Linked DNA regions of Homo sapiens: regions 2 and 3 are each linked to region 1. The links come from fine-mapping of genetic effects on gene expression. A gene starts in region 1. Each other region holds a variant in brackets. All regions are shown on one strand. Distances are between the middles of the regions. Region 1 holds the start of KCNJ3 (potassium inwardly rectifying channel subfamily J member 3). Region 2 overlaps LOC105373693 (a long non-coding RNA gene). Region 3 overlaps KCNJ3 (potassium inwardly rectifying channel subfamily J member 3).

The links. PIP is the estimated chance that this variant, and not a neighbour inherited with it, causes the effect. A credible set is the group of variants that fine-mapping cannot tell apart.
Region 2: its variant is the best candidate, but not a certain one, in a credible set for the expression of KCNJ3 in aorta (GTEx, PIP 0.54).
Region 3: its variant is the best candidate, but not a certain one, in a credible set for the expression of KCNJ3 in cerebellar hemisphere (GTEx, PIP 0.54).

Annotation. Positions count from the first base shown.
Region 1 is chr2:154,694,185-154,704,406 of GRCh38, forward strand. It overlaps KCNJ3 (potassium inwardly rectifying channel subfamily J member 3), which reads left to right and starts at 4,511. Exons shown (of 3, transcript NM_002239.4): 1 at 4,511-5,293. The coding sequence starts at 4,592.
Region 2 is chr2:154,582,830-154,593,051 of GRCh38, forward strand. It overlaps LOC105373693 (a long non-coding RNA gene), which reads left to right. Exons shown (of 3, transcript XR_001739741.2): 3 at 7,041-10,222. It also overlaps the pseudogene RNA5SP107. Among named protein-coding and RNA genes, the nearest start is that of KCNJ3, 110 kb to the right of the region's middle. RefSeq lists an enhancer at 532-1,259. The variant C/T (reference allele first, on the strand shown) is at 4,045.
Region 3 is chr2:154,853,819-154,864,040 of GRCh38, forward strand. KCNJ3 (potassium inwardly rectifying channel subfamily J member 3) reads left to right here. Exons shown (of 3, transcript NM_002239.4): 3 at 909-4,536. The coding sequence ends at 1,495. Among named protein-coding and RNA genes, the nearest start is that of KCNJ3, 160 kb to the left of the region's middle. The variant C/T (reference allele first, on the strand shown) is at 4,031.

The sequences.
Region 1 (10,222 bases):
AGAACCTCATCCTGGAAGCAGCTGCCCTCACAGGAAAAGATGAGTTTGGTTCATCTGTGAACATTTTCAAGGAGTTGAACTCAATGTCACAAATAGGTCAAAGCCTCAGTGACATTTAAAGTGTGACAAAATGGCATCCTTAAAAATATTTAATTTCCCTGGCAGGACTGTGTCATTAAAAGAATAGAAATCTTGACAATAAGCAGATGTGTTTTGGAATCCCTGCTTCACTGCCTATCTGTGTAATATAAATGCTAACCTGTACAGTTCTAAGCACATTACCTGGCACATTAAAGTAGGTTCTTAATAAATTTTGGTTCTCTCTAAAACTCTATCAAGTGTTTATCATGCGTAAGGCCAGTTTGGATCATGGAATACCGGATGGTACCAAATTATTAAGAAGTCGATGCTCAGGGTGCTCAGAGGGAATCTTCATAAATTCTAAGCTGAAATACCAGTTAGAATGTGAAAAATGCCACATTGCAAATCTAGGGAAATGAGAGTTCAGAGGAGGGATGTATTACTCTTAGTGGGAGTATATAAGGAAAAACTTTATGACATCAATAGCAATTGAAATAAAATATGAAGAAGTCCTTCCCTTTCCTTACATACTAGTGCCTATTATTTGAACTTTGCAGGTGTAGAAAAAAGATATTCTAAGTGATGAGAAAAAAAGTGAGCAAATGAAGATAATATAGGGCATGTTTGAGAAATACCTAATAGTCAAAGTTGGCTAGAGCAAAGTGCCCATTAAAAGGAAGGTAGGAGATAATTTGGAAAGCTAGATTATGCCATGTGTTGGAGAATCTTAGATTTCACCTGCATGAGAAGCTAGGCCTATAAAGGAAGAAGGCCTTTGCCACGAATCAGGAATCCTAGGCTCTTTTCTTACTCTGCCACTACCTGGTAAGGGACGGTAGAGCATCCAGGTTCTACAGTCATATTGTTCTGTGGTCAAATCTGTTTCCACTTATCAACTCTGTGACATTGAACAAGTTATTTCGCCTTTATATCCCCAATTTCCTCACTTGTAAAATGAGAGGATTAGACTAGACCATGTCTCCTGAAGTATAAACTTATTTGTTTATAAATTTGGTTGCTAGAAAATGGCAAAGGTTTTTCATGAAAAAGTGTTTTTCAAAAAGTGGGAATGTTTTAAGATCTTCCAGATGAAATAACTGGAGAACTTTTATTTTCTATAACAATACTAAACACATGGTTTAAGGTGAGAGATCTAGTACTACTATCCTGGGCAGTCTGCAGGAGAGGAAAACCAAATAAAGACAAGAAAGTTATTTGAGTTGGGCCTAACTTGAAATGAGAATTTGAAGAACAGTAGTGACTTTTTTTTTTTAAAGAGAGGGGGAATTATGAGGGATATTGCAGCAATAACAATAAAAAAGACTTGGAACCTGATTCAGTATCATTTCTAAAGCTAACGAGCATAGGAAGTATTACTCTTTTTCAACAAAAACTTACATGTTTTTTATATTGCCATATAAGTGATCTGATTTAGTCATTACTTTTATTTAATTCCATATTACTCAGAGAGCTTCAATGCATGTAAAGTTTCCAGTGATATAGATTGGCACATATTATTGATCTAATAAATATTTATTGTGGACCTAGTATGTGATACTTTTCTAGGTACTGGAGACATAGCAGAGAACAAGACAGATGAGGTCCTTGCTCTTGTACAGCTTACATGCTACAACTGATAATGGTGGAAGAGAAAGACAACAAACAAATGAAGAAAATGGTAGCTAAAAAAAAAAGTGAGATGAGGAACATAGATAAGGTTGATGTGATGGGAATACCTGAGATGCTAGGGAAGGCTTCCCTGAGAAGGATGCATTTAGGTTGAGAGTTGAATGAGTGAAGGAGCGAGCAACACGGAGCGGCAGAGCAAGAACTTTCTAGGTAGAGGGAACAGATCTAGTGCAAAGGCCCAGGGCTGGAGCTATGCTTTGGTGTGTATCAGGAATTGAAAGAAGCCAAGCTGCCAAGGGCATAATGAGCTTGGGGGAGAGTAGTCAGAGATGAGATGAGAGTATAGGTGTTAGTTCACAGCATGCTGCCAACTCCAAAAGCTCATTTGTAATCTCTTCTTGGTCTTGTTGCAACTTTATAGCCCACTATATAACATCCTTCATAGCAGAAATAAAAAAAACACATTTACTCTCTTTTTTCATACCAACACTAGGAAAATGTTCAAACTCCCAATTTCTCAGGGGAGAAAATTAGGTCTCAAAGTTGTTCAGCTACTTGCTCAAGGTCACACAGCTTGTAAATGGCACAGACGCGACTCAAATCAGGTCTTATGATTCTAGGACCAGAGAAGTTTCCACTTCCCACGGTGTCACTTTCCCTTCTTATGTAATTTTAAGAGAACAAACAGATAGTTACTGACCTTTTATCAGCGAACTGGCAGGAGAAGCATCTGTAACTGAGGATAGATGTTTTAACCAAATAACAGTGAGAGTCCCCTGCTTATGGCTGACAACCTGACATGCACTTTCCTGCAGTTGGTTTATAAGTAGAGAGGTAGAGAGGAGTACCTATTGGCAGAGAATGCATAGAGTAATTATGTACTTATTTTCCTTTCCATGGGAATCTTATAGCAGCCTTTTGCTTTTATAATGCCATGATTTGATGATTTTCCAACAAAATCAACTTCATGTATCTGGGCTGACTGAAATATGCCTTAAGATACCATGGCATTTTAAAGCAAACGTGAAATGTGGTAAACAAGCTGGTATTTACTCATGGGCACTCTATTAGCTATTTCTGCACTTTGCCCCTCCATTAAGTTAACTGCCAGGCTGAGGCCATTAAAATCCAGCCTTCTTCCTTCAATTATAGGCACACATTAACTCTAGATATTCTGAGCCTTTCTAATAGAGCCATTTGCAGAAAGGATTTCTATTAGTGTTTCTCTCCTTTCTGTTCTCATCCTAAGGCCCCTCCTGCTTCCTGCAACTTTGAGTTCTGAATATGCCTATCTGAGAGCCAGTTGGGATCTCTGTTTATGATGCAACCCCAAATCCAGGCATCCGTTTAAACGAGTGCCCAGTTACAGAGACATATTGTACTTCTCTTCCTTCAGAGAGCAGCATTTGCTTTTTACTGGGGGCTTTCTGACTGATGCAGGGGGCGAGGAAGGAGAGTTGGCGGGCGTTTGGGAGCAGATTTAGAGCCGCTTCTCATTGGAGGGGCTCGCTTTTCCTGAGCTGCCAGACACTGCAGGCTCAACTGAGGCTCGGAGGTGCAATTCAGGCTGGTGGAGCAGCGGGGGAAGGCAGGGACAGGCGGGGCTAGCGCGGCTCTGCAGCTGATCACACGCACCACCACACACACCACATTCCTGCTGCCCCGGCTTGCGCCTCGCATCTTCCACCCGGGGCCACCGAGGCGCTGACAAGGAGTGGGGGACCGAAGAAGGAAGAGGCAGAGGAAAAGCTAGAGCGGCGCTACTGTTTAACCTGAAAGTCTGACCGGCAGCCCAAGGCTCGAACCCCGTCCAGCAGCACCGCTGTCGCCTGGAAGGAGGGCACAGCGCCAAGGAACCCACGAGCCCCCGCTCGAGTCATTCTGTGCTCTGTGCGCCAAGGATCTTTCTGGCAGGGACAGCGCGGTGCCCTCAGGGAGGTGCGGAGCTTGGGGGACCTGCATTGGCGCCCATCGTGGTACACCAGGAAAAGTGGGAACGAGGAAAACAGCCGTGAGCGCAGAGTGCGAGGCCAGGCTGCCGCTACCGCCCGCTGCGCCGCCTCCTGCCCTCTCCCGCTGGGTGAGTGCCCAGGCTTCGCGCACTGCCGTGTCTCAGCTGAGCGCGGGGGCGGCCTGCGGGCCCTTGAGGGTCCGCCGGAGGGCCCCGGTGGCGCCCGCGGAAACTCGGCGGTCGGGGGACGCCAGGCGGACAGGTCTCTGGAGTCCGGAACCCGGGAATCTGAGCCCGGAGGGCGTGGGTAGGGGGCGTTGCACCAGTGCCCGGCAGACATGCCTTTGGGCGGGATTTTGGCTAAAAGATAGGAGACAGGTGCGCCGGGGGTGCGGGGAGCGGTCCCAGGGGGCGGGAGATTGGGGAGCGGCGGGGAGGGGGGAGGGTCTGGTCCAGGCAGGTAAAGGCAGCTTCTTAGGCAGCCAGCGAGTTGGCAGGTGGGTTGGGACTCGCTTGTCAACTCATTAATTTTAAGCAGTCAGTTTGGGGGTACTGCAGGATAATCAGGAGGGCCGTGGGGAGTCAAGAGGTGACCCGGGATGCCGGTGGTGGGGAAAGAAAAGAGGAGCCTCTGGAAGCTTGGAGGCAAAATTGCGCTTGGGTTCCTGTTCCTTGCATCCCTCCTGGCTTGAGTGCGGGAGAACACTTTTTAAAGACTCACCTTGGAAAGAAGGCCTCCGTCCCAGGGGAGAAGGAGAGGCGTCTGCAGGGGGCAGAGACCGCAGCTACCTGCCGGGTGCGCCCCCCACCCAGGAGCGCTCGCTTCGCCCCCTTTCCTCCCCCGCCCCCACCTCCTTATTGGTGCTAGTTTGCAGCGCCCAGCTCCTGCGCCTTCGCTTCGCGTTTGAATCTGGCTCGCCCCTTCGTATTATGTCTGCACTCCGAAGGAAATTTGGGGACGATTATCAGGTAGTGACCACATCGTCCAGCGGCTCGGGCTTGCAGCCCCAGGGGCCAGGCCAGGACCCTCAGCAGCAGCTTGTGCCCAAGAAGAAGCGGCAGCGGTTCGTGGACAAGAACGGCCGGTGCAATGTACAGCACGGCAACCTGGGCAGCGAGACAAGCCGCTACCTCTCGGACCTCTTCACCACGCTGGTGGACCTCAAGTGGCGCTGGAACCTCTTCATCTTCATTCTCACCTACACCGTGGCCTGGCTTTTCATGGCGTCCATGTGGTGGGTGATCGCCTACACTCGGGGCGACCTGAACAAAGCCCACGTCGGTAACTACACGCCTTGCGTGGCCAATGTCTATAACTTCCCTTCTGCCTTCCTCTTCTTCATCGAGACGGAGGCCACCATCGGCTATGGCTACCGATACATCACAGACAAGTGCCCCGAGGGCATCATCCTCTTCCTCTTCCAGTCCATCCTGGGCTCCATCGTGGACGCCTTCCTCATCGGCTGCATGTTCATCAAGATGTCCCAGCCCAAGAAGCGCGCCGAGACCCTCATGTTCAGCGAGCACGCGGTGATCTCCATGAGGGACGGAAAACTCACGCTTATGTTCCGGGTGGGCAACCTGCGCAACAGCCACATGGTCTCCGCGCAGATTCGCTGCAAGCTGCTCAAAGTAAGTGCTCCCCGCCCCTTCCCCACCGGGAGACCTGCGTCCCCCAAACCCGCGGAGTAACTCGTCTGAGAACCAGCCCGGGCCCCCTCCCCTGGTTCTACCTATAGCCACAGGTAAACTTCCTTTTGGGGGGTTGGGGGTTGGAGGACTGGGCAAAGAATGCGGTTGACAGTTCTGTTCCTTTTCCACTCACTCTCGTGCTCTTGTTTATATTCGTCATTTCGGATCTGCTTGTATCACTTACTGGACTAGTAACACGTGAGGACTGCTGTTGGCTCCTGGAGCCATGAGGGCAATTAGTGCCCTGTTCGCCTTCCTGTCCCTGTTGCTTCGCTATTCAGAGCGATTTTATTTGTTGTCTACACACTACCCCATTCAATGCGAGGTACTAGAACTCAACTGAACAGCTGTTATTTTGAAGAAATAGGTGCTGAACTTGCCTCAACTTTCACGATGGGCTTTTCTTATTTTTTTCTTTCCTTTTTTTCCCCCTAATAATATTAGGAGGCGGATTACTCCTCTGGACCCAATGACTTTAACTCTATGGTCATCTTTTTAACAAACACACAGATACAAGAAGCAGATAGTAAAGTGGAAGAAACCACACTTGGTTCTTTTAAATTTTTATTTTTACTAAATATTTTCTTGGAGAAGTATTCTTTGAAAGCTTGAGTGCTTTTCCTGTAGAGCCTCTTGTTAATTTTATTCTTAATTGCCTGTTTCTGTGAAGCCTTTGTCAATTACAGATTTCACTTGAAGCTTTCAGCATCCATTAAAGAAGAATTGCTTCCTACCATCAACGGTGTAAATGCTAAAACAAATTGCACATGGAGTGGTTATTAAAGCAAGGTCCGTCTAGTCGTTAGAGGGCACCACCACAAACAAGAGAAGTCCTTCTTAATCACTCATCCAATTAGAGTATGGGAAGGAAGGCTTAAAGCCCAGTTGTTTGTCTCTGTGTGTGATTTACAATTCATTTTTTTCCCTAGAGGGATTTGTCTTAGTAGTTTTCAGATGTCCATAAATTGAAAAAGATGACCTTAAATAAATAGTTCGTACAATGAAAAATATTTATCTGAGGTTGCGTAGAGAACTGAAGCCAGAGTCTGAATTTAGTATTAATAAAATGAAAATCTGATCAATATTTGAGATTTTGCCTTTGAAATTTCAATTTCCAATCCACAAGTATATATTGTTTTACACAGCCCCAACTTAATGTTGTAGTTAAAAGGGATCCAATGTGCTTTTAAAAAGTTTTGCTCTTGTGTCATTTTCATTATTCACTTACAAGATCTTACCATAATTATCCTTGACCAAGTTGCTCAGTAAAGTGTTTAAATTAAAGCAGTTCACTTGTCCTGTCACATCATATCATATGCATATTTACTGTGCTACATACAGTAAATAAACTACATTTTGTACACCACAGTGGAAAATTATCAACCTGGTTCTGATGTAAACGTTCATTAACTATGAATAAATAATTTGGGTAGATCATATTCATATATAATTAATTTCAATGAACTGCATACAATTTTTTAAAATTTAACTTAGTGTATTGTTATTGACCGCTGTTTGAACCAAGCAGTTTGTCAGATCAAGCTGGGCAGTTGTGTTGTAGATATGTTTATTACAATAGTAACTGTATGTGTCTTTAGCTTTGCATAGACCACAATATAGCACCTGCTTCTTTAGGTTAGGCCTACTAGACAGATAGAAATACTTTGTTAGTATAGTGGCAAGGTTTCTGTTCAAGCAATCCATGTTTATGTATCACTTTGAGACTTACTGAAGAGTAGTTTACAATATTAACTGATGTAATGGAAATTGACAATTAGACATTAAAGGTTATTTATAGACATTCTTTAGTTTTTTAAACATTTAAGGTTATTTATTACAGATGTCTTTTCCAGACAACATATTTTTGATGTTTATAGATTTTATTACATTTTATTTCAACAAAGCCAGTCATAATTAGAATTAACCTATATGTTAGTTTTTGTTTATTTTCTTCATACAAAGGTACAATGATTCTGAAGCACTCAGTCTCTACACTGGTGCAGGGTACTGATAATAATTTTTCTGCCTAAGGAAATGTACCACATATACCATAAAGAGTATCCTAGTTAAAAAGATGAAAGATGTATAGTGTCGACAAATTTGGAGCAAGGTGCTATATTAACACAAGGTGATAAAAACATCTAGTTAAAACAATACATATAATATTCTTATAAAGTCTTTTACTTTTGATTTGTTAGGAAGATGTCAGTGCTAGAAGTAAACACGATTTACCTGTGGCATCAATTTATATTTAAACAAAATTATGGTGAAATTCTCCCCATGGCGAAGGGAGAGAGTTGATCTGTGAGTAGCTCTTCAACTAGTCAGTTAGCGTAGCTTGTTCAAAGTTAATCTTTCCTGTAGGCATGGTAATTTAAATGAATTGCTGTAGTTCCTGTTATTCCTTAGACTTCATTAAAAAGGAGTCATGTTTTATTGGGGAAATAATAACATTCAGCAAAATTAGAGGGGAGATTTGCCTTTAATAAGTTGCTCTCATTTTCTCTTAAGAACTGAGATTAAGTGACCTAAAACAGTCAACTGTATTTTTAAATAGAAGCTATACCAAAATCTTGGCATAATAATATGTCCCTATCAGTTTTATACATTATTCTGATTAAATATTACACACAATTTCCCCCTTTTAACCTCCATTTAACAATTTAAATGCAAAATTTATGTGTCTTTAATGCAGAATGTGTAGAATTTTTAAGGCAACAAAATCCAGTATAATATTTAATGCTAGTAACTATAGTGCATGTATTCTTTTCCTACTACCTAATTTAATTTACTAATTTTTCTATTACTGTTTTCTTATTTGCTAAATAAAAGCTTCTTTAGATAAATGTAAAACTTCTATTTAATAATTATAAAGCACTTTTTGATTCTTGGGGAGACAATAAGAACATGGGCATGGCTTTCTAATGCTTTCTGTTATGAAATTTCTCATGTATAATAGTTTTTAAATGCCTAACTTTTGATGGAAGTTTTTTGTAAAACTTATTTGCCTAATTTTTATTATGCTTTTCACTTATTTGAAAGCACATTTTATCTCATCTCTATTCCTGTCTTCCAGCCTTACAAACACTAAAATATCTTTCAGTAGTCAAATATAGATCTTTCAACTTTATGCCTGGAGGGGTCAGTCCTTTTTCTACTCATAAAAAGAGAAAGTAGATTACATAAAAATCAAAGGCTATAGTTTGAAGTTCCTCATTAAAATCTGTGATTGAATTATAAATATAGCTATAGACAGCTCTTTTAAGATGAATATTCTTTCTTCCTCTTCTCCCCATATTGAATTTTTACTTGAATTTTCCATTTATTTTAGTTATCTTCTTTTCTCTTTTTGTTTTACCCAGAAAATAAGGACTAACTAGTATCATGGCTATGCTAAGTTAATATGTCATCCAATCGAAAGTTTTTATAAAAATGCCTGGATTAGGGATTTGAGACCAGTAGTTGTAATGTTGAACCCTATAGTTTAGTGCTGGGTTTAAAGGATTTGGAAGTCTTACTTACCCCTTTCTACCAACCTAATAATAATGGTTGATAGACCTAGGCATACAACTTGTTAGGGCAAGAATTAATTACTATTCTTTGATAACTGTTCGAGAAATTACAAATTTATTATCTCAATGCCATCATATATATGGTTATACTCATCCAGTCAGCACACATTTTTTACATAAAGTAAACATAAAATAAACTATGGTTGCATTCATATTTTGAAACAAAAAGGTAAGGATTAATTTTCTGGAAGCATAATGTTACTTCTTTATAGTTCTATTTATTGCCAATAGGCATCCTCTTTCTTTCCTAAGAGGTCAGCTGTGCAATCCTTAACTTTCACTTGTCAAAAGGTAATAGAGTACATTCCTTTCCTCTTCTAACATCACATATGTTATTTTTGTGCTCACCTTCTTTTATCCTCCATATATATGTGTGTGTGTGTGTGTGTGTGTGTGTATACATATCCTCCATATATATATCTATATTCCAAATTGGATGTTGTCTTGTTTCTCCATATGACTATTATCAAGTGCAGATGCAATAAAAAAATGGTGGTCTGAAAGACCATATATGTCCTAACATTTTGCTAATCTAACCACAACGATTCCTGAATCACAGGATTCCTGCAGTTTTCTCATATATTTATAGGTTTGCTTTCATTTTATATCTTGCACTGAAATGTGATTATGTTTTTGACTCAGTATGATCTTAATTTTATAACTGACTCTTCACCAATTGACCGTGGCCAATTTGAACTTTATTTTTAATCACGAGACAATTATTTACCTCCCTTTCCAAAAATAAAATCCACAAATGAATGTCTATATTTGTAAAAGCCCTGTTCTGAACATCATCTAAGCCATTAGTAAAAATATTCAAGAGGTCTAAAGCTGAGTACCTCAGAATGCTCAGGAGCTAGGTCCTGTATTGGTTGGTGAGTTCTTCAGGTAGATTCATTTTATCCTTAAAATTAGCACAGTTCCTATTTAGTCTAGTTTTTCTTTCTCTGACACAAGTATACTAATTCTCTAATAAGTATAGAACTTGGCTTCTAAAAATATATAATTATTATTCTTTTTAAAATAGTGGTAATATATTTTGTTTAGTTTTGTTTTTTATTTTTAATATTATTCCTGAAAAGTAAAGGGTGGATTGTGCTCAGGGAATAAAAAGTGAACAGAAATTAGGGGCATAAAGAGCCATAAATAAACAGCAGTAGGTAAGAACAAATGATAAAGCGAAGCAGGAAAAAGCATTTAATAGATTGGAGGGTATTTGGCGAGTAGGAGGAAATGTGCAAGTAGGGTTACGAAGCCTGTCCTCAATTATTATAAATGCCACAAAGGCCCTCAAGGA
Region 2 (10,222 bases), 110 kb before region 1:
GGTGGGGGGTCACAAGGTGCTCGGCAGGGGAGCTTTTGAGCCAGGATGAGCCAGGAGAAGGAATTTCACAAGACAATGTCATCAGCTAAGGCAGGAACAAGACATTTTCACTTCTTTTGTGGTGGAATGTCATCAGTTAAGGCAGGAACGGCCATCTGGATGTGTACGTGCAGGTCACAGGGGATATGATGGCTTATCTTGGGCTCAGAGGCCTGACATTCCTGTCTTCTTATATTAATAAGAAAAATTAAATGAAATAGTGATAAAGTGTTGGGGTGGCAAAAATTTTGGGGGGTGGTATGGAGAGATAATGGGCGTTGTTTCTCAGGGCTGCTTTGAGCAGGATTAGGGGTGGCATGGGAACCTAGACTGGGAGAGATTAAGCTGAAGGAAGATTTTGTGGTAAGGGGTGATATTGTGGGGTTGTTAGAAGAAACATTTGTCGTATAGAATTATTAGTGATGGCCTGGATACGGTTTTGTATGAATTGAAAAACTAAATGGAATAAGAGAAGGAGAAAAACAGGTATTAAAGGACTAAGAATTGGGAGGACTCAGGACATCTAATTAGAGAGTGCCCAAGGAGGTTTGGCATAGCCCTGCCAGAAAAGATTATTTATTTACTTTAAGAGTTAAGAGTGGCGGGGCCGGGCGCGGTGGCTCACGCCCATAATCCCAGTACTTTGGGAGGCCGAGGTGGGCAAATCATGAGGTCAGGAGATCGAGACCATCCTGGCTGACATGGTGAAACCCCTTCTCTACTAAAAATACCAAAAAAAATGGCTGGGAGGGGTGGTGGGTGCCTGTAGTCCCAGCTGCTTGGGAGGCTGAGGTGGGAGAATGGCATAAATCCGTCAGGCAGAGCTTGCAGTGAGCAGAGATCGTGCCACTGCGCTCCAGCCTGGGTGACAGAGCTAGACTCTGTCTCAAAAAACAAACAAACTAAAGAGTTTAGCACCAGGAGATATCAGCTGTGATGGCTTGGGGAAACAGTGTAAACCGGCAGTGTAAACAAGAGCAGGGCATTTATGAGTAGTTGAGAATGGTGAATAGGAGTATGACTAGACAGAAGATAGTAGGGATGACCAGTTTTTTGGGTGGCAGTCCAAGTTGGTCTGGTGTCTGGAATGAGACTGGGGCCTAAAAAAAAGGAGTGTCTATACAGGGGCTTAAATGGGCTGTACCCTTTAGCATTCCAAGAACAGGCCTGAATTCTGAGAAGGCCAAGTGGTAAAAGTATTGTCCAGTCCTTTTTAGGTTGGTGGCTGAGCTTGGTAAGGTGTGTTTTTAAAAGACCATTAGTCCGTTCTACCTTTCCTGAAGATTGAGGACCGTAAGGGGTATGAAGGTTTCACTGAATACCAAGAGCCTGAGAAACTGCTTGGGTGATTTGACTAGTAAAGGCCGGTCCGTTATCGGACTGTATAGAGGTGGGAAGGCCAAACCAAGGAATTATGTCTCACAGAAGGGAAGAAATGGCTGCAGTGGCCTTCTCAGACTCTGTGGGAAAGGCCTCTGCCCATCCAGTGAAAGTGTCTACCCAGACCAAGAGGTATTTTAGTTTCCTGACTCGAGGCATATGAGTAAAGTCAATTTGCCAGTCCTGGGTGGGGGCAAATCCCCGAGTTGATGTGTAGGGAAGGGAGGGGGCCTGAACAATCCCTGAGGAGTAGTAGAATAGCAGATGGAACACTGAGAAGTGATTTCCTTGAGGACAGATTCCCACGATGGAAAGGAAATGAGAGGTTCTAAGAGACGGGCTATCAGCTTGTAACCTACATGGAAGAGGTTATGAAATGACGACAGAATAGAATGGGCTTGTGAATCTGGAAGGAGATATTTTCCTTGGTCTAAGAACCATTTGCCTTGTGTGGGAAGAGATTGATAGTTGGAAGTTTCAGTGGGGGAGTAGGTGGGAATGGCCAGATGAGAAGGAGAAAAACTGCTGTGAGGGATAGAAGTTGGGACTAGCTGCTTTTTTAGCTAACTTATCAGCATAAGCGTTGTCCTGACCGATGGGATCTGATGCCTTTTGATAGCTGCTTTTTTAGCTACCTTATCAACATAAGTGTTGCCCTGAGTGATAGGATCTGATGCCTTTTGATGGCCCTTGCAGTGAATGACTCCAACTTCCTTTGGAAGTAAAGCGGCTTTGAGAAGCATTTTTATTAAAGATGCATTAATGATGGAGGACCCTTGCATAGTAAGGAAACCTCTTTCTGCCTATATACCAGCGTGGTGGTGCAGGATGTGGAAGGCATATTTAGAGTCAGTATAAATATTGACTCATAGTCCTTTTGTAAGAGTGAGGGCTTGAGTTAAGGCAATGAATTCGGCTTGCTGAAAGGTAGTGGAGGGGGGCAGAAAGTATATGCGTCAGGTGTGAGGAAGAAAATAGATTTTGGAAGTTATGAGAACTGTAGAGGGTGAGTTGAGCATAGTTTGTGATTTTGAGGGCCTCTAAAAGCATTAAAGCAGTGGCAGCCGCTGCACGCAGACGTGAGGGCTAGGCTAAAACAATAAGGTCAAGTTGTTTGGACAGAAAGGCTACAGGGCACAGTCCCAGCTCTTATGTAAGAAATCTGACCACACTAACCATGCCTAGGAAGGAAAGGAGTTGTTGTTTTGTAGAAGGATTGGAGTTTGTGGTATTAGCCAGACATGATCAGCAGGGAGAGCACGTGTGTTTTCATGAGAATTATGCTGAGATATGTAGCAGATGAGGAAGAAATTTGGGCTTGACTGAAGTAATGGGGGCTGTCTGTGAAGCCTGGTGGCAGTACAGCCCAGGTAATTTGCTGAGCCTGAGGGGTTTCAGGGTCAGTCCAAGTAAAAGCGAAGAGAGGCTAGTATGAAGGGTGCAAAGGAATAGTAAAGAAAGTATGTTTGAGATCCAGAACAGAATAATGGGTTGTGGAGGGAGGTATTGAGGATAGGAGAGTACATGGGTTTGGCACCATGGGGTGGATAGGCAAAACAATTTGGTTGATAAGGCGCAGATCCTGAACTAACCTGTAAGGTTTGTCTGGTTTTAGGACAGGTAAAATGAGGGAATTGTAGGGGGAGTTTATAGGCTTTAAAAGGCCATGCTGTAACAGGCGAGTGATAACAGGCTTTAATCCTTTTAAAGCATGCTGTGGGATGGGATATTGGTGTTGAGAAGGGTAAGGATGATTAGGTTTTAAGGGGATAGTAAGGGGTACATGATCAGTCACCTAGGAGGGAGTAGAGATGTCCTATACTTGTGGGTTAAGGTTGGGGGATACAAGAGAAAGATGCGAAGGAGGCTTTGGGTTGGGAAGAAGGGTGGCAATGAAATGTGGCTGTAGTCCAGGAATAATCAGGGAAGCAGATAATTTGGTTAAAATGTCTCAGCCTAATAAGGGAACTGGGCAGGTGGGGATAACTAAAAAGGAGTGTATAAAAGAATATTGTCCAAGTTGGCAAGAGAGTTGGGGAGTTTTAAGAGGTTTAGAAGCCTGGCCGTCAATACCCACAACAGTTATGGAGGCAAGGGAAACAGGCCCTTGAAAAAAGATAATGTGGAGTGGGTAGCCTCTGTATTGATTAAGAAGGGGACGGACGTACCCTCCACTGTGAGAGTTACCCAAAGCTTGGCGTCCGTGATGGTCTACGGGGCTTCCGAGGTGATCGGGCGGTGTCAGTCTTCAGCCGCTAAGCTGAGAAGATCTAGGAAGGAGTCAGTCAGAGAGCCCTGGGCCAGAGTTCCAGGGGCTCTGGGAGTGGCTGCCAGGTGAGTTGAACAGTCCAATTTTCAGTGGGGTCCCGCACAGATGGGACATGGCTTAGGAGGAATCCCGGGCTGTGGGCATTCCTTGGCCCAGTGGCCAGATTTCCAGCACTTGTAGCAAGCTCCGGGGGAGGAGGTTCTGGAGGAACCCCTGGCAGCTGCAGTTCAGGCGTTTGGAGTTCTTGGGTGCTGGAGATGTGGCTGGGGTTTGTCTCACAGTGGAGGCAAGGAATTGCAACTCAGAAATACATTGCTACTTGGCTGCCTCTACTCTATTATTGTACACCTTGAAGG[C/T]GAGGTTAATTAAGTCCTGTTGTGGGGTTCGAGGGCTGGAATTTAATTTTTGGAGTTTTATTTAATGTCAGGAGTGGATTGGGTAACAAAATATATATTGAGAATAAGACGGCCTTTTGACCTTTTAGGGTCTAGGGCTGTAAAGAGTCTCAGGGTTGCTGCCAAACGAGCCATGAACTGGGCTGGGTTTCTATATTTGATGAAAAAGTGCCTAAACTCTATCTGATTTGGGATAAAGAAAAAGGAGCATTAACCTTGACTATGCCTTTAGCTCCAGCCACCTTTTTAAGAGGAAATTGCTGGGCAGCTGGGGAAGTTCTCCACCTGTCCAGTGGCCGTTATATTACACTTTGCAGAACATTCAGGGCATTCAGGGAAACTCATCTTGTCCACCTATTAGCAATCAAATGCCTCACTGTTAGTAACACAGAAATGTGGGTTGAATAACCAACATGGACACCAAAGAGTTCTAAATATCCATTGTGGTCTAAGGTAACAAAGAATGAATCCTTTAAGCTTCATGGCCATCCATCCCAAACGTGGGGCCAAGCTGGTATAAAAGGTTGTGGAAAACAAGAAGTCTTAATCATAATCACTGAAGACTCTTAGGGTTCTAATCTGACCTTCTACAGCATTCACTCTGACCACCAACTTTGTGAACAGATGATTTTGAATCTTGGTTCCTCTGAGCTGTCTTTCTGATAACAATATAACTAATTGTATAAATCAGGATTTTCCAGGGAAACAGAACAATAAGAAACAGAACCCAATAAGAAATGTGTTGTAGGGGAAGGGGTGAGTGGTGTCAGTGTATATACATATATTATAGAAAGAGATTTACAATAAGAAATTTATTCGTGTTATTCCAGCTCCAGCAAGCTGAAAACCTAGAAAAACCAATGGTATAGTTCCAGTCACAGTCCAAAGGCCTAGTAAGCAAGAGAGCTGATGGTGTAAGTTCTAGTCTGAGTCTGAAGGTCAGAGAAAACTCTTTTCTCAGCTCAAAGACTGCAAATTCTCCCTTAGTCAGCCTTTTGACCTTTTCAGGCCTTGAACAGATCGGGTGAGGCCCATCCACATTGAGGGAGACAATTTGCCTTACTTAGCCTACTGATTCAAATGTTAATCTAACCCAGACACACCCTCATAGACATACCCAGAATAACATTTAATCAAATATCCAGGCACCTTGTGGCCTAGTCAAGTTGCCAAAACAATCAACCATCACACTAATATTTACTGAGAACCCTATATATCCCTGTCACTTAAGCCGGACTTTAGTCCTGTTATATTTGATTTAATCTTTTCAGAAAGTTTAAAAGGTAAGGTACAATTACTGTCTCCACTTTTCCAGTGACAAATAGTAAGTACAATGTTGTTAAATATTGTTATGAACTGAATGTTCCCCCAAACCCCCACCTAAAATTTATATGCTGAAATCCTAACCTACAATATGTTAGGATTAGCTCTCGTGAATGGGATTAGCACTCTCTTAAGAGGAGACATGAGAGAGATGCTGTTTTTTTTTTTTTTTTTTGGTCCATGTGAGGATACAAGAAGACAGCCATCTGCAAAGCAGGAAAAAGGCCCTCACCAGATACCAGATCTTGCATTTCCAGCTTCCAGATCTTTAAGAAATAAATTTTTAAGCTACCTAGTCTATGGTATTCTTTTTTATAGCAGTACAAGCTGACTTAAACAAATCTTTTCCAAAGATCACACTTCTAAGTAGTGGAACATCTGTCTAGCCCCAGAGCTGACTCAACTATTATGGACTAACTGACCCTAGTATGCTTGTTTTTTTGAGTCCAGCTGAGCCAGCTGAAAGGACAACAATCCCAGCTTTGGTAGCAATGGTTGCTCTAATGAAAGTGAACTTCAATCACACTATTGTTTATATATTTTGTTCGGTTAGCATGGCTGAGGACCTGGTATCCCTACTTTTCTAAGGTGACTGTGGGGAAGAAAAATCACAAGGCTTTTTGAATGGTCTAGAATGTTTATATTATAAAAAAAATCTTAACAACAACCAAATTTATACTCCATATTCTATTGCACCAAACTACTACCTGCTCACATTTCCACATTGTTACATATCTCTACTCAGTGATATACTGCAGTCTGCTCTTACCTGCTTGCAAGGGCCAACTGTGCACATTCCTTCCCCAGAGCCCATTGTTAGACATTTAGCAGCCCACCACTGACTTTATTCCTTTGTTCACGCTGATCACTTTTCTTCCATGACCTTCCTTGCCATTTTCACTGGGTTTAATTTTCAAAGGTCCTCATTCATCCTGTAAAAGTAATGTGTTGCCTATGTAAGCAATTCTTAAACTCCTTTCTTGATGCTTTTGCAGTATTTCATGGTATGTATGTACTATTGCTTTTTTATTGTTTTAAAATTATTTAGTTGTTTGAGCTTTTGAAAGATAGAGCCAATATTTTATTTATTTTTATATTCCCAGGATATAACAGAGCTCCCAACATGTGGTTGATGCTCAGTACATGAATCTTAGGCAGGGGATCTAATAAAAGTTTTTGAACACAGGAGAAATGTGATCAAAACACTAGTTGGAGAAAATGACTTTGGCAGTGGTAGGACAGGTGAATTAAAGTGAGGAAGATTGAAGATCAGAAGCATGGTTAAGTGTCTGAACCAGGATGGCTACAGAAGAAATGATGTTGAAAAGTCCATGAAGAAAGACTCAACAGGATTTGTTAATAATCAGCTGTGATATATACCCTTGCTACAGCATGTGTGGAGGCTGAGCTAGCAGTATCAGCATCTCTTGGAAGCTTGTTAGAAGTGTAGAATTACTAGCCCTACTGGAAACCCAGTAAATCAGAATTTGCATTTGAACAAGATCCCCAGGTGAGTTATATGCATATTCAAGTTTGAGAATCCTTGGTCAAAGAAGAGGAAAGAGTATAATATGACAAGCTTCAATCCTTTGTTTTTTAATCAAAGACTTTCTCAATATTTCCTTCTTTTACAGATTCCTTTACTGATTCCTGTGAAGTGACTGTAGGACAGGGACAGGTGAAACATTGGTTCTCGCAAAGAAAAATGGAAATAATTGAGATTTTTGGTGCATGTGTGGAAAATAAAGCCCCTTTATCCATAGAATGGATGCATATCCTTAAACAGCTCATGGAAAAATGTGCTGCATTGAAGCTTGTTTTCTACTGCATTTTTGTTGCAAAATATCAACTATTATGTGTAGAGATCCCTAAGTCCACGAGTAGCCTTAATTCTCAGGTATTACAGTGTGTCCTTCAACTCAAACTTATCTTCCTCATGGGAACCGTTTCCAAATAATTTTTTAACCCATTATTTCTAGCAGTCTTGTTCCTCAAGGCCATTTTTGAAGCTAAATTCAATTAGCTAAACTGGTAGATTAGTTGTCATGTGACAATGTTAATAGTAATAGTAACAATGTTCATACACATAAAGCTTATAATACGCCAAGCACCGTTCTGAGCACTCGACATATATCAACTCGCTAAATCTTCATAACAACATTATGGAATAATTATACAGCTCTACCACCCTGAATGTGCTTGATCTCCTCTGACCTTGGAAGCTAACCATAGTTGGGGCTGGTTAGTACTTGGATGGGAAACAACACTAAGAAAATGTAGCCTACATTTTACAAAAGAAGAAACTGAAGAATAGAAAAATTAAGTGATGTGCTTATAGTCACACTCCTAAGTAGCAGGCTTGGATTCAAACTCAATGACTTAAGAGACAGTTTTCTTAATGACTCTGCCAATTGTTCTGTAACTGTAGCATGCATCAAAATCACCAGGCGAATTTGTTAAAACACAGGTATCTGCCTTCCCAAGAATTTCAGATTCAGTAGGGCTGGATAATTTGCATTTCCATAAATTTCTAAGGTGATCCTGTGGCTGCTGGTCCAGGCATCACTCTTTGAGGATCACTTAATTGTGCTACATATGACCTCTCTGTGTTTGATAAATTTTAGCTTACCTAATTATGCTTTAAAATAGCCTTTTTGTAGAAAAATAAAAACTAGACCCAAATGAATGATATGCATTGAGAATTCCCAGATGCTTTGAAGAAAACATTTTCTGATTAAGCAAATAAATCTTTTGGAGTGGCTTGTACCACAAACAATTCATTGCCTTTTCTTTACAACTAATGCTTTTTGGTAATTCCATTCCAGTGAGAAACAGGACTAGCTGGATTTCCTAGGCTATCTAAAAATTCCTAATACTAGGGAATATAATGATTTCAGTATGATGAGTTAGAAATAGCAGGTGACCTTGATACTCTACTTGTTTCTGTTTTGTCATGAATTACCTTCATGCCCCGTGAAAGATCACATGACCTCTATTTCTTTACCTGTTACATGAGAGTCTTGGACTAAGTTTACTTGTTTCCTTTGTCTTAATCCCATAAATGAACAATTCAGGATTGAGGGCCAACTATCTCCCATCAGAAGGAGATTAGAGGCCCTACTGCAGAGTTACTTTATGTTGTTGCAATGATGCCCATGGCTTTCTTGTTGCCAAAAAGGAGGAAATAAAAGAGAACTCTGTCAGCAGTGTACTAATCATGAATCTATGCAACAGTGACAGTTAATCTTCTCTTCCTATTAATAGATGCAGATGCCTAAGGGCTTAACATTTTCCTACTAGCTTAATAAGGAGAAAAAGATTGAAGGGGAAGCAGAGATGCCTAATTGCATAGCCAGCAGCTATTACAGTGTTGCTCAAAGGGAGAAACTCAAGAGAAAGAGGCAAGATGGAAATTCAGCATTGGCCATGCCAGCAAGTTGTCCCCTAAGGAAATTAAAAGAAAGTCGTTTTGATCTGTTTTGGTGCATCTCTAGGAGAATATTCAATTAAGAACCCAGATGAGCTTTCACTCACCGTGGTGCCTGCACAGCTGTATAAAACAAAGCTGAAGATATATTGATCTTCCTGAGAATGCCATGGAATACTTACTGCAAATTCACAAAAGAAAAATAAAGCTAAGTCTTCCTGGCTTTACAAAACCATTTTGATTTTCAATTCAGGAAGTCATCTTACTGTGCTTAGGTGTTTCACTGGCATTTGAACATAGGAAGGTTGTGACAGGGAAAGGGACATGTATGCTTATAAAATGAAAAAAAATTCACTTGTGACTTTGAATTTTTTCTAGTTTCATTTATAAATTAAATGGATTTCTGTTACATCTCTAAGTACCATATTCTGACAGTCACTCTGGTTCCTCAAATAATGTATTCCCAATAGAGGAAAAATAGTACCTTAAAAATAACGTATTAATTAAGAAATAGACAGTTACATAAAAAAGCTAACACATTATTTACACATTAAATATACTTACCTTTAAACAACTTCCTCACTAACGAATAGCCACTATATAGACTATTAAAATGATGCTTTGTAAGCTCCTATTCTGAGATTATAAGTAATGTCTTGATGGACCACATTGAGTAGCAATTAATCAAATTTAAATTAAACAATCATGCTTGAGTGCTTACTATTGATATTGGTGGGCTCGGAGAGGTCCCCAAATGCCAGTGGGACATCGACCCCAGTTAGTGTTCAGGCTTTTGACACCACTGTGGGAACGAATTCCGGGCTGAGTCAAAAAATAGTGAAAGTATGACAATTTCTTGCAAAGTGAAAAGTACACACTCAAGAAAAGGGAGTGAAGGTATACTCAGAGAGTCTCATACAAGGGGGTTTGGGGCTTCTTACCTTTATGGGTTTCTTCAACCCAGGGGTGGAATATTGATGAAGATTCTTAGAAAAAGGTGAAGATTTTTTGGAACTGTGATGCCACCCATTTTTACACCAACTATAGATGTTTCCAGAACTGTCATGGCACTGGTGAGTGTGGTAATTTAGCATATTAATGACTATGTAATGAGGTCCTAGATGAAACCTGGGTCAAATCCAACACCATGTTGGGTCCAGTGAGTGTTAGCCAGCTTGGCCCATATCTTGTTTTTCAGGATCTTATAGGCCCCTAGCTTATGAATCTATTTCAACAGTTTCCTTTTGCTAGTCATGTGAAACTGCTGCCTAGAATTTTTCTATTCTCTGGCGATCACTCTGTATTATTCCTGTCTCACTATGAGCCAAGTCTTCTGCTAGATGCTGAGCACACAGATATGAAAAAGAAAATTGCCTAGCATCCAGTGAG
Region 3 (10,222 bases), 160 kb after region 1:
TGAGGCAAATGATATCCAAGGAACATAATTGATAAACTGAAAAAATTTACATCTGATAGCCAGCAACCAGTTCCAGATATTCCTAGAGCAGGAATGGAACTTGATACATCACATGGCCCAGAACACTGATTTTAGCATATGGATTTCTGAAACTTGAGCAAAAGCTTATTCTGGCCTTATAGATGCAAAAGAATAGAACCAGCACAATGACTTTTCTTTTTCTAGCATATAAATATTACCACCTTTTATTCGTTTAACAAATACTTGGGAGAGTTACCTTTTGTCCTCCCACCCCCCATAGCAATCCTTTGCTACGTAAAGACAAAAAGGTAAGCGTCCATTAATTGAGTCACTTATTGTAGATATTATATGACAAATTTTACATTTCTGTATATGTTATTTCATGGTCACAGCAGTGTTGTGAGACAGGTATTGTTGACAGTGCTTTACTCTGCAGAAGAATAAAGTGATACTCAGTTAAATATATTTTCTAAGTTTACACAATATTAAAGTTTAGATTCAAAATCAGATTTGTTTTATTTATGACACTGTTTCTTAAACAATGAAAAATTGTTACATAATTTTTCCACTTATCTCCTTATAGGGACATGTATGTTCTGAGATTATTCTATGCTACTTTTGCTTTTGGTTTGTGGTTAATATTTAGGTAATGATGCATTATCCTTCAAACATGAATAGTATCATCACCCTGTGTTTTTTGTTGAAAGAAAGTATATGTATCAAAGCTATTAACTTAGAGTACAACTTTTAATCTATTCTATTATTCGGGCTTCAGATAAACAGTCCAAAACCTAGATAAGAAAGTGAAATGAATTATTTAGGCCAAACCGGCTTTACATGTGCTTCCACTATGCATAATTTATCAAGAATTTTCTCTTTTCTTGTAGGGATGACTTGTCAAGCTCGAACATCATATACTGAAGATGAAGTTCTTTGGGGTCATCGTTTTTTTCCTGTAATTTCCTTAGAAGAGGGATTCTTTAAAGTTGATTACTCCCAGTTCCATGCAACATTTGAAGTCCCCACCCCACCTTACAGTGTGAAAGAGCAGGAGGAAATGCTTCTCATGTCGTCCCCTTTAATAGCACCAGCCATAACTAACAGCAAAGAAAGACATAATTCTGTGGAATGCTTAGATGGACTAGATGATATTACTACAAAACTACCATCTAAGCTGCAGAAAATTACTGGAAGAGAAGACTTTCCCAAAAAACTCTTGAGGATGAGTTCTACAACTTCAGAAAAAGCCTACAGCTTGGGAGACTTGCCCATGAAACTTCAACGAATAAGTTCAGTTCCGGGCAACTCAGAAGAAAAACTGGTATCTAAAACCACCAAGATGTTATCTGATCCCATGAGCCAGTCTGTGGCTGATTTGCCACCAAAGCTTCAAAAGATGGCTGGAGGAGCAGCTAGGATGGAAGGGAACCTTCCAGCCAAATTAAGAAAAATGAACTCTGATCGCTTCACATAACAAAGCACTCCCTTAGGCATTATTTAATGTTTGATTTAGTAATAGTCCAATATTTGGCGATGAGGTAATTCTCCCTAAGGAATCTGAAAGTATATTTTCCTCCCAGTTCTACAAGCATATTTGAGAACCCTTCCTTTCCCAAGTATTGCGAATGTGCAGAAAGCAACAGTTACGGAGGGAGGACATCATAAGGAAGTTATTAACGGGCATGTATTATCACATCAAGCATGCAATAATGTGCAAATTTTGCATTTAGTTTTATGGCATGATTTATATATGGCATATTTATATTGTATATTCTGGAAAAAAAATATATATATATATTTAAAGGGGAGATACTCTCCCTGACATTTCTAACATATGTATTAAGCCAAACATGAGTGAATAGCTTTCAGGGCGATAAAACTAAATATATGTCTGTGTGTGTGTGTGTATGTATACACACATATACATATATATATACACATACATACACATACATACATACATACATATATATCTGATAAAATTGTGATGTTTTGTTCAAAGTTGTAGTTCTTGTGCATGTTTACTTTATTAGAGTAGGAAGGCTACTGGCATTAATTATTAATACCAAATATTTTAGCCTTAAATTTTTGTCATTTTAAAATCTGATTTAATGTTTTCTGCTGTTTAAGGTCTTGGGAGGCTTTCAATTGTATTTTATATGAGAGAATCACACAAGTTTGTGCTATCTATGGCCCTGCAAAAATATAACCATTACATGTTTAAATTGTAAATTTTAGAGCATACCAGTACTCAGTATAGCATTGAACATTTCTTATGATTTTTAAAAGTTGCTAGTACTGGGGAGAAATAATTGTTGATTAATTTGAGAATTATTCCTTTCCTAGACTAATTAAAATCTGGAAATCTGTTTTGTATATGATCTAATACAAAGATGAGCTCTGAACAAACACTGAATCATGTTAATAGACAGTAGCCAAGTTATATTGAATATATCAGAATCTGTGTGAAGTTACACAATTAATTGTCCCTGTTTCAAACTGAGTAAATTGGAAACATTTTCTTTCTTTTTCTGGAAATTTTGTCCATTTTAAAAACCAATCATTTTAAGAAGACATGACAATGCAATGAAACAGATGATAAATATTTATGCTTAAAATATGTATGTCTAATTGAGTCTCTTTTTTATTCTGTTTTCTTGTTTATGGCATTTGTTGTAACAGGATAGACTTTTTCCTCACCTAGGAAACCTATCCCATGCCTGTCACTTATAGTTCAGGAGGAAGTTTTTGCACAGACCAGAGAGAAATTAAAATTAGATGATAAATTGAAGATATCTTACACACAGTTTTTTGGTGAACACTGATTTTATTGGTGTCTTAGATCCCTAGTCTACCCAAATAATTTTAACAGTACTGTTTTTTCTAATCCTGAAGTCTGATATTTATGACTCATTAGCAGGAATCAAAACTAGTGATCAGTAGAACACTTTCAAAATAAAAATTTGGAATGCAGACTTTTATGAAAATTTAAAAGTGCTCCTTAACAGAATATCATGGGTTTTCCTATAAAACTTCTTTAAGTATTGTAATTCCAGTCTGCCCCAACTTTAAAAAAAATTCTTATTAATATGTCAGTCATTAATTGCTAGTTTGGGCTCTCATTATTTCCTGTTTTTTAACAATTTTGTGATAATTTTATTATTGGCAAATTAATACATCAACACTTAAATCATTGACTATAATAATACCTTCTGGCTACCTCTGTATCAACCAAATTCTGTAGGTGCAAACATATACCAGGGAATTCTTACTGGCAAAATGATCAATCTGGAGTGTGCATCCACTGTGAATGGAGCAAATTGCCCTATACCCATTGATAACCTAGCTTTCTTAGTTTGTAGATGTAGGAAACAAAATAGTGACAGAGAGAGAAGGGGGTCCACAGGGCATGGTATATTTATCAGCAGTGGAAAAAAAGTGCATAGATCATTTAGTCCAAGAACTTAAAACTAAATAGAGCCATAATTTACTTTGGAGAGTCATTTTAATTTGTCTTTGGTACCAAGGAGAAGACGGAACCAAAAACAAACTCTCCAAGTATATTCACACATTCAACAAAATTTTTGCATGCCTTCTATGTCGTAGGCATTTTTAGTTCCTGGGGATTTGGACATGGCTAAGTCAGAGAAGGCCATTGCTCACCATGAACACTGTATACCAGAAGGAGAGTGGGGAGGAGACAAAAAACAAATAAGACCACTTCAGACAATCAAAGTATCAGTTAAGAGAATGAAAACAGGCCTGACTCAGTGGCTCACGCCTGTAATCCCAGTACTTTGGGAGGCGGAGGTTGGGGGATCACCTGAGGTCAGGAGATCGAGACCAGCCTGGACAACATGGTGAAAACCCGTCTCTACTAAAAATACAAAAATTAACTGGGCATGGTGGCAGGCACCTGTAATCCCAGCTACTGGGGAAGCTGAGGCAGGAGAATCGTTTGAACCTGGGAGGCGGAGGTTGCAGTGAGCCAAGATTCTGCCACTGCACT[C/T]CAGCCTGGGTGACAGTGCGAGACTCCATCTCAACATCAAAAAAAAAAAAAAAAAAAAAAAAAAAAAAAAAAAAAAAAAGAATAAAAACAGGGTAACATAATGCAAAGTAACTGTGTGGAATAAAAATTGATTATTTTAGAAAATGTGACTGGCTTAGGACGGGGATAATATGTGAACAGAAATCTATCTCATGAGAAAGTGCTACTGTTGTCAAAATTACCTTATCTGAGTGAATGGTATTTTTTTTATCTTTTCCACACATGCGTGGGAAAGGTATGATTTCTGCATGTAATTGCAGTTTAACCCTTATTTCTAGGTTGATCATAGGTCCCAGTTTACCCAGGAAAATTCCAGTTTATACCTGTTGTACCTGTGTAATTATTGGTAGCACTCCCTTTCACTCTTACAATGTCTTGGTTTGGATGATATATGGTGAAGTTTTTGTTGAAACTAAATTATGAAGTCTGATATATTTGGATAAAAATAAAGAATTGCTTTTCTTCTCCTTTTGCTGATTTTTTGACACATCATTCTAAGCAAAATCATCTCAGCTTCGTATATTTCAGCCTGAAGTACTTCTTACCAAAGTTGTTTCATGTAACATTTGTTCAATATGTTCGTGACATGTCTCTCAGTAATGAAAAGTTATGCATTTTATTGAATGAATAAAAACCTAACCTCTGCTATTTCCATTTCTGGAAGTTGTAAGAGCTCACATTAAAGACAGTAAAAGTCAATTTAAGCCAAGATCATTTTCAGCCCACCAATGTCATGGCTATTGGAAAGGAAAACCTAATGTGATCATTGAACTATCATAACAAGTGGAAACTAGAACTTTTTTATAGCATTTTCATGATATAGGTCCTGTTATAGTAAGATATTTCATTCTATTTATCAAAATGGTGTAAATAAAAGAAACACAATTATTTTGGTAATGCTTATCTTCAGTTTAAACATTTATTCTTTTCAGAAATATGTAAATACCCTTTTGTAAATATATACAAAATGAAAAATAAGGATATTTTACCATTAATTATTTCTGAAAGATTCTTATGCTGTTTTAAATTTATCTATATATGGCTTAAAATATTATGAAAAGAGCCTTTTTGTCAGGACAAAATGGCTCATAATACAGTATTTCTACTGGAGGAAGACTGGGGTCATCATGGGAAAGCTGGCTTACATTCTATTAGTTCTTACATTCTTCAGAATTTATGTTTGAATTACATTGTACATATTTAAATTAGCATCAACCTAATTCCATTTTCTGGCATGAAATCTATAATTATTTAAGTGTAAAAGGTCATTTAGTTTCAAAAATATAAACTCATGTATTCAATACTGCAAGTTCAATTTTATAAAAAACGGTATTAAACTTTTGAAACATGATTGGGTTTAATTTTTAGTGTTCTCATCCTTTTTGCACTCTTCACCACTTAATTATTCACATTTCTTGACTCAGTTTGTTTATCATAAGACTCTTAATTCCTGAAGGGCAATCATTAAATTCATCACAAGTCATTCCTTGATAATTCCTTTTATTTTGGCTGCTTATTGGTAAGATGCTTCAGCAATACCAAACGTCAGCTTAATAATGCAGATACTCAGGACCTGCGTTTCTTGGAGGAAGCTTCATGGTTATCCTACCCCTTGCTGAACCAGTGTTTTAAAAGCTACAGTAAGTAAAGCAGACAAACGCATAGTTTTTCTAATTTTGTTTAAGTATCTAATCATCTTTTAATAAAGCATTCAGTTGCTTCACCTGTGTTTCACAGAAAAATGTGTTCTTAATCTTGGATCAGATGAGTTTTGTGATGTGTAATGTGCCCAACTCCCAGGCACCTCAGAGAATTAATTTAGAAAAGCTAAGTCGCTACAGCTTCTGACCTAGTAGATTTCCATACAGATGGTCTTTTATCATTTAATAGAATTGTTAGGGTTGTTCCTCAAAATATATTTTGTTGTTGTTGTTGTTGTTTACAATTTTCTTCTGGACTTTCTTGTTGCTTAAAGGTCTATTATATGTCTGAATGCTGTGTTTTCAGAGAGGAAGATGTTTGCATATTCTCTTTAACTTAGATATTCTCCAGTTTCACTGTGATTTCTTTGGGATTTTTAAATCTACTTGTAAAGATTTTTTGAAATTATAGCTGTTTCAGAATATCTGGGCTTTTTCTGACCAATAGATGCTATAGAGCACAAATACTGTAGGACCTACTATATTCTCCTTGTTTACTAAGAATCAAATCCATGCTTCTATTTATCCTCTCCCAGCTCTGAATGTGTCAATCATGTACATGGTGACTTGCACACATTATTTATATATTAGAAACAACTCTGCATGGTAAAGATCATCCCTATTTTACACTTAAAGAAACTTATTCTCAGAGAGGCTGTTTAGCGGGTTTTTAATTAAATCCACAAACATGGGGTATAGTCTCTGCTCCCTGGAAGTATAAAGAATAAAGAGAATCCCTTTTAAAAACAACTGCATATTCCAGAAAATTTGGATGCATGAACATAAATATTCAATGACTGTGTGCAATGGCTTCTAACCTAACAGAATGTCTTGTGCAATGGAGTTTGCATTTTTCCTAGCTGTCATTTGGAGAAATGGTGGATGGAAAATGAGAGTCGTGTAAGGAGTAGCTGTGGTCACAATTGTGTGTTGGTTAGAGGAGGAAAAAAAAAGTAGGTAGGAAGCAAGGACAAATAAAAATGAAGAAAATGTGGAGGAAAGTAGACACTTGAAGTGTTGCACAAAGAAATACCTAAGTGGCAAAGAGGTAAAAATGAAAAAGACAAGCTAAAAAATCAAGAGTCCAGTGGATACTTGAAAAAATACTGCAAATAAGCAGAAAGTTTCTTCAAACCCAGGTACCTCAGACCCAGAGGTTTTTTTAAAAAATGATACAGTAACATTTTGCTGTATTTACCTCATGTACTTATTAAATAAATAAAGTGTCATAGAAATCTAAAACAGGCTGGGCATGGTGGCCCACCTGTAGTCTCAGCACTTTGGGAGGCCAAGGCAGGAGGATTGCTTGAGCCCAGGGGTTCAAGACCAGCCTGGGCAACAGTGGCACTTCATCTCTACTAAAAATAAGTTTAAAAAAATTAGCTGGGCATAGTGGCATGTGCCTATAATCTTAGCTACTAGGGAGACTGAGGTGGGAGGATCCCTTGAGCCCAGGAGTTTGGGGGTTGTAATGAGTTATGATCTACGACACTGCACTCCAGCCTGGGTGACAGAGTAAGACCTTGTCTCAAAAGAAGAGAAAGAATAAAAAGAAAAAGAAAGAAACCTAAAACAGCCACTTTGTCTCTTCCAAATCCTACACTATTCCATTTCTCTTCCTCATCGGAAGCCATCACTACCTAGAAATGAGTGTGTATATTTCCTGTGCTGGTGTGTATATGTATACTGCATATGCATAAATTTATATGTAATGCATACTATAACAATCTGATATTTTACTTGAATATATTTCTATACAAATGTATATAAATATGTGATATTTATATATAAAATGTATTTGTTATATAAATATGTTTCTATAAAATATGTTATATATAACATGCTATATAAATATATATTTAATATAAATATAAATATTCATAGATACACACCTACTGATAAATTTGTTTTTATTTTTTCTTTCTTCTCTTGGATTTTGTGTTTTCTTTCTTTGCCTTTTTTAAAAAAAATTTCCATGTCTATTATTGTAGTAACCTTCAAAATTTAAGCTTGAGTACAGCAACTAATGAAACCAAAGCTAATTAACATCTCCACCTTCCTTTCAAACAAAAGAAGGATCTTACAGCGTATTAAATTCAGCCACATCTTCCCCTGTTTTCTCTGCTATTTTTGCATAGTATTACACGTGTTTTTAATGTTCTAACAAAAAACTGTTATTTTTAAGTCAATGCATCTGTATAATTGGCTATATATTTCCTGATTTCTTCATTCACCATAGCTTCTTGCATCCTACTCATTCATCCTTTCTTTTTTTTCTTAATTAAGTATGTATTTTAACAGTTATTTAGGCAAACATCTGTGATCATCTTAAATGTTTTTTTCTTTTTTTACATTTTTTTTCTGGACATTCTTGTTGATTAAAAGTATATTATATGTCTAATTGACGTGTTTTCAGGAAGGAAAATATTTTCATATTCTTCAGTTTCACTATGATTTCATTTTTCAGGTAACAAAAATTTCTTCACATGGGATATCCTGGATAAGATATCCATAATTGCATGATGCTTAGGTTTGAGGTTTCAGCTTCTCCCAGAATACCTTCTGCTCTCTCCATAGCCCCGTGCACAGACAAGCTTCCTTGTCACTGGGCCTTAGGTGGAAAGTTTGGTTCCTGATAAGGTTTTACACAGCCCTAGACTTATTCAGGGTCTTCAGTTCCAGTTTCCTGTTTAACAGGTATCGAAGTTGCACCTTTCCCATTATAGGTGTTAAAATCTCAGTCCCCAAATTAGAACCTATCTCCATGTCTAATTCTCCTGAATTTGCACACAGACACACACACACACACTCACATACATGGAAGAAACTCCTGAATTTTAAAGACATTGTTTCACATGTCTTATATATATATACATAAATATATACACACACACACACGCTTTCATATATACATGTGCATATATCTGTGTGTGTGTATATATATATATATATAGAGTAGAAAGTCACACATACACATAAAGAGTCATGAAGTTTTTACAAGGCTTGTTACAATAAAAACAGCCCCCACTCTCTACCTACTCTCTCCTCACTCTCTCCCCAGAGACAAAGACTTTCAACCCTTTTAAATGACTCTATTGTTATTTACATGCAAATTTCTAATCATTCTTTTATTGCTTCCCTTGGTTTTCCATTTTGGGGTATTATTTGTTTGTCTTCCACTGTGGTAAATTATTTAGTTCTATTTTAACCCTTGCTATCCACTATACGTCTTCAACATCCACTCTAGTATAGTTAGATTTTCAACACTATATTTTAAGAGTTTAATTATCAATGTCCTCATTAAGTTCTATCACAACTGAGCCCCATGTATTTTGATTATTTTTCTCACCCTTTGTAGCTTCTTCCTCCTATAATTGATAACTGACTTCTTTGTTCATTTATGTATGTATCACTAATACAGTCATAGAATCTTCCCCAATTATGTAAATGATTTCCTGTTAATTTGTCAGACTCATTAGATACCCTACAAGTTTCATCTTCTTGAAGAAGCCTCCACCAAGACGTTCTGAGACGTTTCCTATGAAGGAAAGATCTTTTGACGCCATACAGGTGTTGTCTTGGGATCTTCCTTTGTAATCATCCTGGAGAGTCCATTCACCTTGTTCTTGGTGTAGAAACCCTGTTTCATGGAACATGTTTTCTTCTTTCTGTGTTTACTTTGTTTTGTTTTGATAAAATTTGTTTTGATAAAACATATTTTCCAGGGGTTTCTGAGAAAGAAATAGTGATAAACTCTTAGAGGCCTTGCACATATTTAAATAAATCTTTCCCTTGTAATTAATTGTTTGGTCTCTTGTACAAATTATTTTTTCTTCTGAATTTCAGTGACATTGTTCTTTTTTTTTCTAGTTTCCAGTGTTGCTATTGAGATATCTAATACCATTCTGAATTATAATAATCTTTCATATGAAAGTAATTTTTATCCATAAGGCTCTTAAGATATTCTATTCTTCCCCAGTGTTCTAAAATTTTCAAATGATCTACCTTCGTAGGGGCCCACTTAATCCCTTTTGCTGGGCCTTTGCAATCTGTATCCTCATGGTCCTCTCCATTTTCCTCTATTCTTTCTTTCTGGAATTGTTATTGTTTGGCTGTTGGAGTTCTTGGACTGATTCTCTAACCCCTTCATATTTCCTCTTTTATCTTTTTGCATTTTTTTCTGTACTTTATTGGGGATTTTCTTGACTTTATCCTTTACGATTTTTATTTCTGTCAATTTATTTCACTTTAGGTCATTTATCTTCCAGATTTTCATTTCTGCTATACTAGTTTTAATTTTCAAGTACTTTTTCCTGTTCTATAAACATTTCCTTTTTTACGAGTCCTTGTGTTGTTTCATGAATGCATAATTTTAGCTCTCTCAAATTATTAAAGATAATGTGTTTTAAATGTTTTTTTCTCTCTGCATTGTACCTATTTCTAATGTCTTTTT